Linked DNA regions of Homo sapiens. The protein of the gene in region 1 purifies or fractionates together with the protein of each later gene. This does not show direct contact. Each region holds a gene or a part of one and is shown on either strand. Other genes may lie near its edges.

Region 1 (5,056 bases):
TATCAGAGAAGACAGCATGAAGAGCAGAAACAAGGTACCCTCTCCTTTCAGACAAGGTGATGTCACCAGAGGTCTACTGGGGAGCCTGAACTGCCAACCCCAACTAGCAGTAATGAGGTGTCTCTCTCCCCACAGACTGTCAACAGAGTTCAAGTAGGGAACCTGCAAATTCACATCCACCTGGCAGTAGTACAGCAAGGCCCCCCAATTCCCACACTGGCCCAGAGGACGCCTGCTAAAAAAGAGGACTCAAATAAGATCTAGAGTCTCATAATGCCCAAGGTTTCCACAATACATTACAAAATCATTTGTAAAACCAAGAACCAGGAAAATCTCAACTTGAATAAGGAAACAACCAATCAACCGATACTAAAACTGAAGTGATGTATGTTATCAGAATTATTTCATAAGGATTTTAAAGTAGTCCTCATAAAAATGTTTTAACAAGCATATGAACACACTTGAAACAAAAAAACTTCAACAAAGAAATAGAGAAGAGATGAAAAAACCAAATGAAAATTTTAGAATTAAAAAATAACCAATATTAAAAACTCAATAGATGGGCTCAAAAGAATGGAGGCAACAGAAGAAATATTCTGAGTACCTGAAAATAAAGTAGAAATGATCTAATCTAAAGAATGGAGAGAAAACAGACTGAGAAAAAAAGGAACAGAACCTCAGAGACATGTGGGACAATAACAAAAAATCTAACATTTGTGTCATTGGAGTTCCAGAAAGAGAAAAAGAAGAGAAAGGGATGGGGGCTGAACAAGTATTTGAAGAAATAATGAATGAAAATTTCTGAAACTTCCCGAAAGATATACACTTACAGATAGAAGCTGGGCAAATCTCAAAAAGGATAAAACCAAAGAAATTCACACTAAGGAAGAATTATAGTGAAACTTGTGAAAAATACAGACAAAGAAAGAATGCTGAAAGCATTCAGAGAGAAACTACACATTACCCACAGGAGAAAAACAATTTGAATGACAATGTGAGATACTAAGAACCATGGCTCCCCAAAGATGTTCACATCCTAATTCCCAGAAATTGTGAATATGTTAGGTTGCATGGCAAAAGGGAATTCAGGTTTCAGATCAAATCTAGGTGGCTAAATCGGCTGTCCTTAAAATAGGAAGATTAATTATCTTAGATTATCTGGGTGGGCTGAATATAATCACAAATTTGCTTAAAAGTTAAAGCAGGAGGGCCAGGCGCGGTGGCTCATGCCTGTAATCCCAATACTTTGGGAGGGCCAATGCGGGCGGATCGCCTGAGGTTGGGAGTTTGAGACCAGCCTGACCAACATGGAGAAACCCCGTCTCTACTAAAACATACAAAATTAGCAGGGCGTGGTGGCACATGCCTGTAATACCAGCTACTCGGAAAGGTGAGGCAGGAGAATCGCTGGAACCCGGAAGGCGGAGGTTGCAGTGAGCCAAGATCGCGCCATTGCACTACAGCCTGGGCAACAAGAGCAAATCTCTGCCTCAAAAAAAAAAAAAAAAAAAAAAAAAAGTTAAAGCAGAGGCAATAAAAGAGAGTCAGAGAAAGATGCGACTACAAAAGAGTGGTCAGAGAGATACAATGTTGATGGCTTTGAAGTTGGAGGAAAGGGCCACAAACTGAAATGTGAGCACCCACTAGAAGCTAGAAAAGTCAGAAAATAGAAACAGATTCTTTCAGGTTGCGGTGAGCCGAGATCGCGCCATTGCACTCCAGCCTGGGCAACAAGAGCAAATCTCTGCCTCAAAAAAAAAAAAAAAAAAAAAAGTTAAAGGAGAGGCAATAAAAGAGAGTCAGAGAAAGATGAGACTACAAAAGAGTGGTCAGAGAGATACAATGTTGATGGCTTTGAAGTTGGAGGAAAGGGCTACAAATTGTGAAATGTGGGCACCCACTAGAAGCTAGAAAAGTCATAGAAAATAGAAACAGATTCTTTCTTACAGCCTGTAGAAAGGAATACTGCCCTCTTGACACCTTGGTTTTAGTTCAGTGAGACCCATGTTGGCCTTCTAAAATATAGAACTGTAAAAAAAAAAAAGTTATTTTTAAGCAACTAAATTTTTGAATTTATTTCAGCAGCAATAGAAAATTAACATGCAGTTTTAACTAATATCTCATCAGAAACTTTGGAGGCCAGAAGGAAGTAGCACATTTTTCAAGTGCTAAAAAAAAAAACAAAAGAACTATCAACTTAGAATTTTGGATCAGGCAAAAATATCCTTCAGGAGAATGTGGAAATCAAGACATTCTCAGTCCTCCAAAAATTCGTATGTTTAGGCTGTAACCCCTAATGTAACTGTATTTGGAGATAGGGCTTTTAAGAGGTAATTACGGTTAAACAAGGTAGGGGTCCTAATCTGATAAGACAGGTGGCCTTACAGAGAGAGATTCTCTCTCCATAGGCAGGCAGGCAGGCAGGCAGGCGGTCACTAGGGAATGGCCTGTGAGCACATAGTGAGAATCTGGTTTTCGTCTACAAGCCAAGAAGAGAACCCTCATCAGAACCTGACCATACTTGCACCCTGATCTCTCAGTTCCAGCCTCCCAGAACTGTGAGAAAATAAATTTTTGTTGTTTATTCCACCCAGTCTATGGTACTTTGTTATGGCAGCCTGAGCTGACTAAGACAACTACTAACAGCTCTGCACACATAAATTTGACAACTTAGATGAAAGGGACCAGTTCCTGAAAAACACACAAACTACCACAACCCTCTCAATATTAAATAGACAATGTGAATAGCCCTGTAACACTTAAAGAAACTGAGTTTGTAATCTTAAAACTTCCAAAAAAGAAATCTCTAGGCCCAGACAGTTTCTCTGGAGAATTCTACCAAATATTTGAAGAATTAACATAATTAACATAAATTCTACACAGTTTTTTCCAGAAAACAGAAGAGAAGGGCATACTTCCCAGTTTATTGTGTGAGGCTATGATTTCCCTGACACAAAAACTGGACAAAGTATAGAAAAAGAAAACACAAACTATACACAATCTCTGGCAGAATAATCAATACAAAGGAACACATTCCAACTTATTTTATGAGGTCAGGGTTATCGTGATACCTAAACCAGAAATAGTACCAAAAGAAAAAACAGAAAGAGAGACAGAAAGAAAAAAAAAAGCGATATCCTTCATAAATATGATACAAAAACCCTTAACAAAATATTAGCAAATACAAATAATTTAAAAAGTATATACCACAACCAAGTGGAGTTTATTCCATGGATGCAACGCTGGTTCAATATTAAAAAATCAATCAATGTAATCTACCATACCAACAGACTCAAGAAGTAAAATCACATGATCATGTCAATTGGTACAGAAATAGCATTTAACAAAATTCAACTCCCATTCACGATAAAACCTCAAGGTTGTTTCAGAAGGTGGTCCTTGGACAAGGAGCATTGATGTTCTGTGGAAATTTGTGAGAAATAAAAATTCTCATATCCCATCCCATAGCTACTAAATCAGAATCTGAATTCAAATGCAAGTAAAGTGTCAGAAGCACTGTTCTATAAGACAGCAACAGAAAAACTGTTAGTGCACGTTCTTTCTTTCTTTCTTTTTTTTTTTTTTTTTTGAGACAGAGTTTCGCTCTTGTTGCCCAGGCTGGAGTGCAAAGGCGCAATCTCGGCTTACTGCAACCTCTGCCTCCTGGGTTAAAGCAATTCTCCTGCCTCAGCCTCCTGGGTAGCTGGGATTACAGGCGCCCGCCACCACACCTGGCTAATTTTTGTATTTTTAGTGCAGACGGGGTTTCACCTTGTTGGCCAGGTTGGTCTGGAACTCCTGATCTCATGTGATCCACCTGCCTCGACCTCCCAAAGTGCTGGGACTACAGGTGTGAGCCACCGCGCCTGGCCTGTTAGTGCACTTTCAGTAGGGTTGTTGTTGAAGACTGCTCTGTCATTAACCATCTGAAGATCTATCAAAAAATTCCTCAAACATCAAGAACCATGACATCTTTACTACAGATGAAATAAATTACTTGTTAATTTTATTAATATAAACCATGTATCCAATTTCCATTATTGCTATGTCTTTCAGGAAGATCAGAGACAATTTAACAGTTCAAAGTTCATGACTGTGTAAGACCATATATTCTAAACTTGACTTGGGGCTGACAGTCTCTTCTTCATTTTATCTGATCTTAGTTTTTATTTATTTAGTCTTGTCATCTTACTATAGGGATTGTTAGATGTCTCCTAAAATCCACTAAAAGTAAAAGAAAGCAACAAATAAACAGATGAACAAATAAGAACTCACCAGGGACTTGGTCATTTTTGGCTCTTCGGACAAAGGGGCAGAAATCTGAGAAAACAGATGGGTAGAGGTACCCATGAGAGAAGGAACTGTGCCAATGTCACACATGGACACATACATCATTTAGTGCCCTTGCACCTTACTCAAAAATTTATTTCTGGAACTACCACATTAAAATATCATCCCATCCCATATTGTACAAAGATTTAAGTGCAAAAGTTTTACCATAACATGGTTAATAAAAAAGAAAGATTAGAAATGTTTAGATATTCAATAATTGTGGATTGCTTAAATACTTTATAAAATATCCAAAGGATATACTGTTCTATTACGTTATTATACTATCTGATTTCACAGGCCCTTCAAGTTATCATCAACCCTGGTACCTAACTCCTCACTACCACTCTTCAATCTGCTCTAAGTGTCAATTGGTGCCCAGAGACTACTCCCAGAAGCCATTACTGAAACCTCAGATTCACTGATTTCCATGCCTTGCTGCCCCTGAGCCAGGCCTGCATCACTCATCCTACAATACCTGATCACAGAGTCTTCAATTCCTCTACCCTAATGGTCCTGGCTCTCTACCAATCAATCCCACATCCCCATGACTGGCCTCTATGCCTGTATGACTACCGATCATGCATCTCCATCAGCCATCCCAAGAGTCCCAATCCTAGGCACACCTGTTTCTGCACTGGGGCCTTAGCACACATACACATCTCCCACCACTGACACAACTAGGCTATAAGCTCCTCCACATACACAAACAGGAACTCAATCAATG
Region 2 (4,528 bases), on another chromosome or scaffold:
AGACAGGAAAATACCTTTAGCATCTTAATAAAAGATGAATCAAACTCTCTAATAAATACCCTAGAAAAGACAAACAATACACTAAATATAAGATTAAAGAGTAGTTTCTAATACATCATTCTAAGACAAAATGAGGGAAAAAACCCCATTTCAAATTTAAGTCAAAAGAAAGGGTGAAACATAAAGGAGTCTGGGTGCGGTAATCCCAACACTTTGGGAGGCCAAGGCAGGTGGATCACTTGAGGTCAGGAGTTTGAGACCAGCCTGGGCAACATGGTGAAACCCTGTCTCCACCAAAAATACAAATATTAGCTGGGCGTCGTGATGCATGCCTGTGGTACCAGCTACTCAGGAGGCTGAGTCAGGAGGAGGTCCCAGCTACTCAGGAGCCCAGGAGGTGGGGGTTGCAGTGAGAGAGATCATGCCACTGCACTCCAGTCTGGGGGACAGAGTGACACTCTATCTCAAAAAAAAAATAAAATAAAACAATTAATTAATTAAAACATAAAGGAAAAGAAAGTCATGCAATTAACACTGAACAAGGCAAAAGCGTTAAACCTAAAGGAGGGACTTCTAAATAATAGACTTTATACCTACAATAAAAATATAACTGACATATCCCAACTCCATACTAATAATGAAATGCATAAAAATTGTAGGATATATAAGGCAAAGAGTCAAGAGACAAATATGAAGCATTAACTTTTCTCTATGCTCTTAATAAAGCAAGAGCACAAAAATAAACAAGATGTAGAACAGTGTTTTTCAAACATTTTTGACTGAAACCCACTGTGAGAGACATATTTCAGATTATGATACTAAGCACACAGATTGTTAGATTTGCAAGTGTAACTGAAAGAAAATGTGAGCAGCTCTTACTATAAGCAATACACTTTGATAATTTTCTATTTGTTCTACTCCATTAAAAATTGTAGTTATACATATTTAGTCAGGACCCAAGAAATTGATTTTATGACACAATAAATGTTTATGATCCAGTTTGAAAAACAAAGATATAATAAAACTCATCTATTATTCGACATATAATTAAATCTGTACTTAGATTATGTTTTCTTTCCAAGCACCCTTGAATTTTTACAGAAATTAAATATTAGGCCACAAAGAAAATCTGAGTTAATTTCCCCCAAAGAAGAAATACTACAGACCACATTCTCTGGTCACAAAACAGTGAAATTAGAAGTAAATGTTAACAAAAATATGCAAGCAAAATTTCTGCCAGTTGGAAATTTTTTAAAAAGAGACAAAACCTCATAAAAATGGCTTCTAAACAACTTTCAGGTCAAAGAGAAAACAACAACAACAAAAACACATCAAAATCTAGGATACATCATATATATGACACTATAAAAATTAAAATAATCTGGTAAATTAAGATTAGAGGAACAGATTAACAGACCCAAAGATGCAAACAAACATGGGAATTTTAGACTATAATGATGACATTTTAATGTAAGAAAAAGGATTTTTCAATAAATGAAAAACTGACTAGTAACTGGTGAATAATGAACAAAGGAGAAAACGATATCACCCTTTCTTTAGTCCCTATAATGAAATAAAATTCAGAGGAGATTTAAAGTTAAAAATCAACACGAAACCCAAAGTGAGATACAAACTCATGTCCATTATGTTGGCTATTATCAAAAACACAGGAAATAACAAGGTTGGAGAGGATGTGGAGAAACTGGAACCCACCACACTGTTGGCAGAAATGTAAAATGGTGGAGCACCTATGGAAAACGGTATGGAGGTTCCGCAAAAAATTAAAAATAGAATTACTATATGATCCAGCAATACCACTTCTGGGTATACAACCAAAAGAACTGAAAGCAGGGTTTCAAAGAGAATATTTACACATTCATGTTTACTGCAATACAATTCAAACAGCCAAGATGTGGAGGCAATCCAAGTGCCCATTGATGGATGAATGGATAAACAAAATGTGTATATACACACAGTGAAATATTATTCAGTCTTAAAAAGGAAGGAAATTCTGATATATGCTACAACATGGATGGATCCTGGGGATGTTATGCTAAGTGATGATTCCACTTTAATGAGATACTTAGAATAGTCAAATTCATAAAAAGACAACGTAAACGGTAGTTGCCGGGGGCTGGGGGAATCAGAAATGAGGAGTAGTTGTTCAATGCATAAAGAGTTTCAGTTTCACAAGATGAAAAGAGTGCTGGAGAATAGTTGCATGACAATGTATATGTATTGAACTGAATGTACTGAACTGTACACTTAAAAATGGTTGAGATGGTAAATTTTCTTATGTGTATTTTATCATAATTTTTAAAATTAACAGACATACTAGAGGAAAATATGAATGAGTATATTTATAGTGTGGTAATGCGGAATGCAGAAGACTTAGAGGAAAGGATGAACAAGGTGACCACATAAAAATCTAAAATTTTTCTATGGCAAACAACAAAGGGGGTGCTATGGTCTGTTTGTGCCCCACTCCCCAAAACGGTATGTTGAAATCTTAACCATTATGGTAATGGTATTAGGAGGTGACATTTGCTGGAGGGAGGAAGGGGTATTAGGTGATGGGGGCAGAGCACTCATGAATGGGATTAGTGCCCTTATAAAAGAGGCCCAAGAGACCCCTCACTCATTCAGCCACATGGGGTTAAAAGATTGTGGTCTAGGAATAGGGCCCTGAGATACCTAATCTTGCAGCACCTTGATTTTGGACTTCCCAGCCTCCAGAATTGCCAAGAGTAGATTTCTATTGCTTATAAGCTACCCGGTTCATGGTAGTTACAGCAGTTCTAACAGACTAAGACACGTGGAATTTAAGATATACTTACAAATAATTTATCGGAGAGACATGTATTAGAAAAACAGAAAAGCATAAAGAAACACAAAAAATCCAAATGGCTAGTAAATTTATGAAAACATACTTAAACTAAAAAATAAAGAAAAAGCAACAATAACATACTTTTGCCTATTAGCTTATTAAAGATAATAAAGGTCTGCAATATTTTAGACAGGTATGAAAAAGCAGACATCAAAACCAAGATGTAGTCTGATACAAACTAGTGAAATTTGTGTGTAGGGTGAAGTGACAATGACTAAAATAATATTTCTATCCCCCTCCTCCCCCCCACCCCCCTTTTTGGGACAGAATCTCACTCTGTTGCCCAGGCTGGAATGTAGTGTAGTGATCACAGCTTACCATAACCTCAAACTCCTGGGCTCAATCAATTCTTCTGTCTCAACCTCCCAAGTGGCTAGGACTACAGGTGCACACCACCACACCTGACTAATTTTTTCATTTTTTGTAGAGACAGGGTCTCACTACATTGCCCAAGCTGGTCTTGAACTCCTGGTCTCAAGCAATCCTCCTGCCTCGGCCTCCCAAAGTGCTGCGACTCTACAGGCATGAGCCACTGTGCCCAGCCAAATACATGCACATTTAAAATGCACTTAAGATTCCTACTTACTTTTGAGTACTTATTGTACTTTCTGTTACAACAATTCAGCACTAACCCTTTAACTAAGTATTGCTTTTCAATTAACATTAACAGACATTAAGAAACCACAATGACTATCTACAGGTTTAACGATGGCTCACATTTTGGCCACAGACACCTACAAAAAGACTGAGTATTGCGCAATGGTCACGGAATTATGAAGCTAAAATGATACATTCAGTATCATCATTCAAAGGATAATAACCATTTTAATGTGGGCAAGGAATACAGAAAACTAAGCAAAGCCAGGAGAAGACTGTAAGACCCAAACAGTTGACTTTTTACTCAAGATCATACAATCTGTATGTGGCAGAGCAATACTCTCAGGAAATCTTTCTGACGACTGGTATAGTTTTAAAAATGTCTCTCACTTATCAACAAGTGCTACTTTCAATATGACAACCACCTTGAAAAGGCAACCACTCTAGAGGACTAAATCTATTTCAGCAAAAAAAAAAAAATTCATCAAACATATACTAAAACTTTCCTCCATTCCGCCAATGCCAAAATAATCTATGAACCCATCTATTTTTATCTCCTTCAATTATCCCCCCCAGGGAAAATATGTCTTTATTCTTTTGCACAGTTAAACAGTCCAACTGTTCTTCAGTTCTCATCACTTGATGCCTCTCTTCAGATACCTCCCTCCCTCAGTCCTTCCCTCTCCACTAGCTTCTTGTCCTTGGTTAACAAACGCTTGGCCAGGTGCGGTGGCTCATGCCTGTAATCCCAGCACTTTAGGAGGCCGAGGCGGGCAGATCTCAAGTCAGGAGATTGAGACCATCCTGGCTAATACGGTGAAACCGGGTCTCTACTAAAAATACAAAAAAAAAAAATTAGCCCGGCGTGGTGGCGGGCACCTGTAGTCCCAGCTACTCAGGAGGCTGAAGCAGAAGAATGGCATGAACCCGAGAGCAGAGATTGCAGTGAGTTGAGATTGCGCCACTGCACTCCAGCCTGGGTGACAGAGTGAAACTGTCTCAAAAAAAAAAAAAAAAACAAAAGAACGCTCAATTTTCAATAAT

The links. Proteins that work in one complex are often made in the same cells at the same time.
Region 2: the proteins of ZNF484 (region 1) and SMARCAD1 purify together in Homo sapiens (affinity purification with mass spectrometry; one large-scale study listed by BioGRID and IntAct). This does not show direct contact.

Annotation. Positions count from the first base shown.
Region 1 is NC_000009.12:92,870,740-92,875,795, forward strand, and holds part of ZNF484 (zinc finger protein 484), read right to left. Parts: intron 4,321-5,056; coding exon of another isoform or gene 4,291-4,320; coding exon 4,276-4,290; intron 2,029-4,275; exon of another isoform or gene 1,948-2,028; intron 1-1,947. UniProt on the Homo sapiens protein: May be involved in transcriptional regulation.
Region 2 is NC_000004.12:94,214,240-94,218,767, reverse strand, and holds part of SMARCAD1 (SWI/SNF-related matrix-associated actin-dependent regulator of chromatin subfamily A containing DEAD/H box 1), read right to left. Parts: intron 1-4,528. UniProt on the Homo sapiens protein: DNA helicase that possesses intrinsic ATP-dependent nucleosome-remodeling activity and is both required for DNA repair and heterochromatin organization.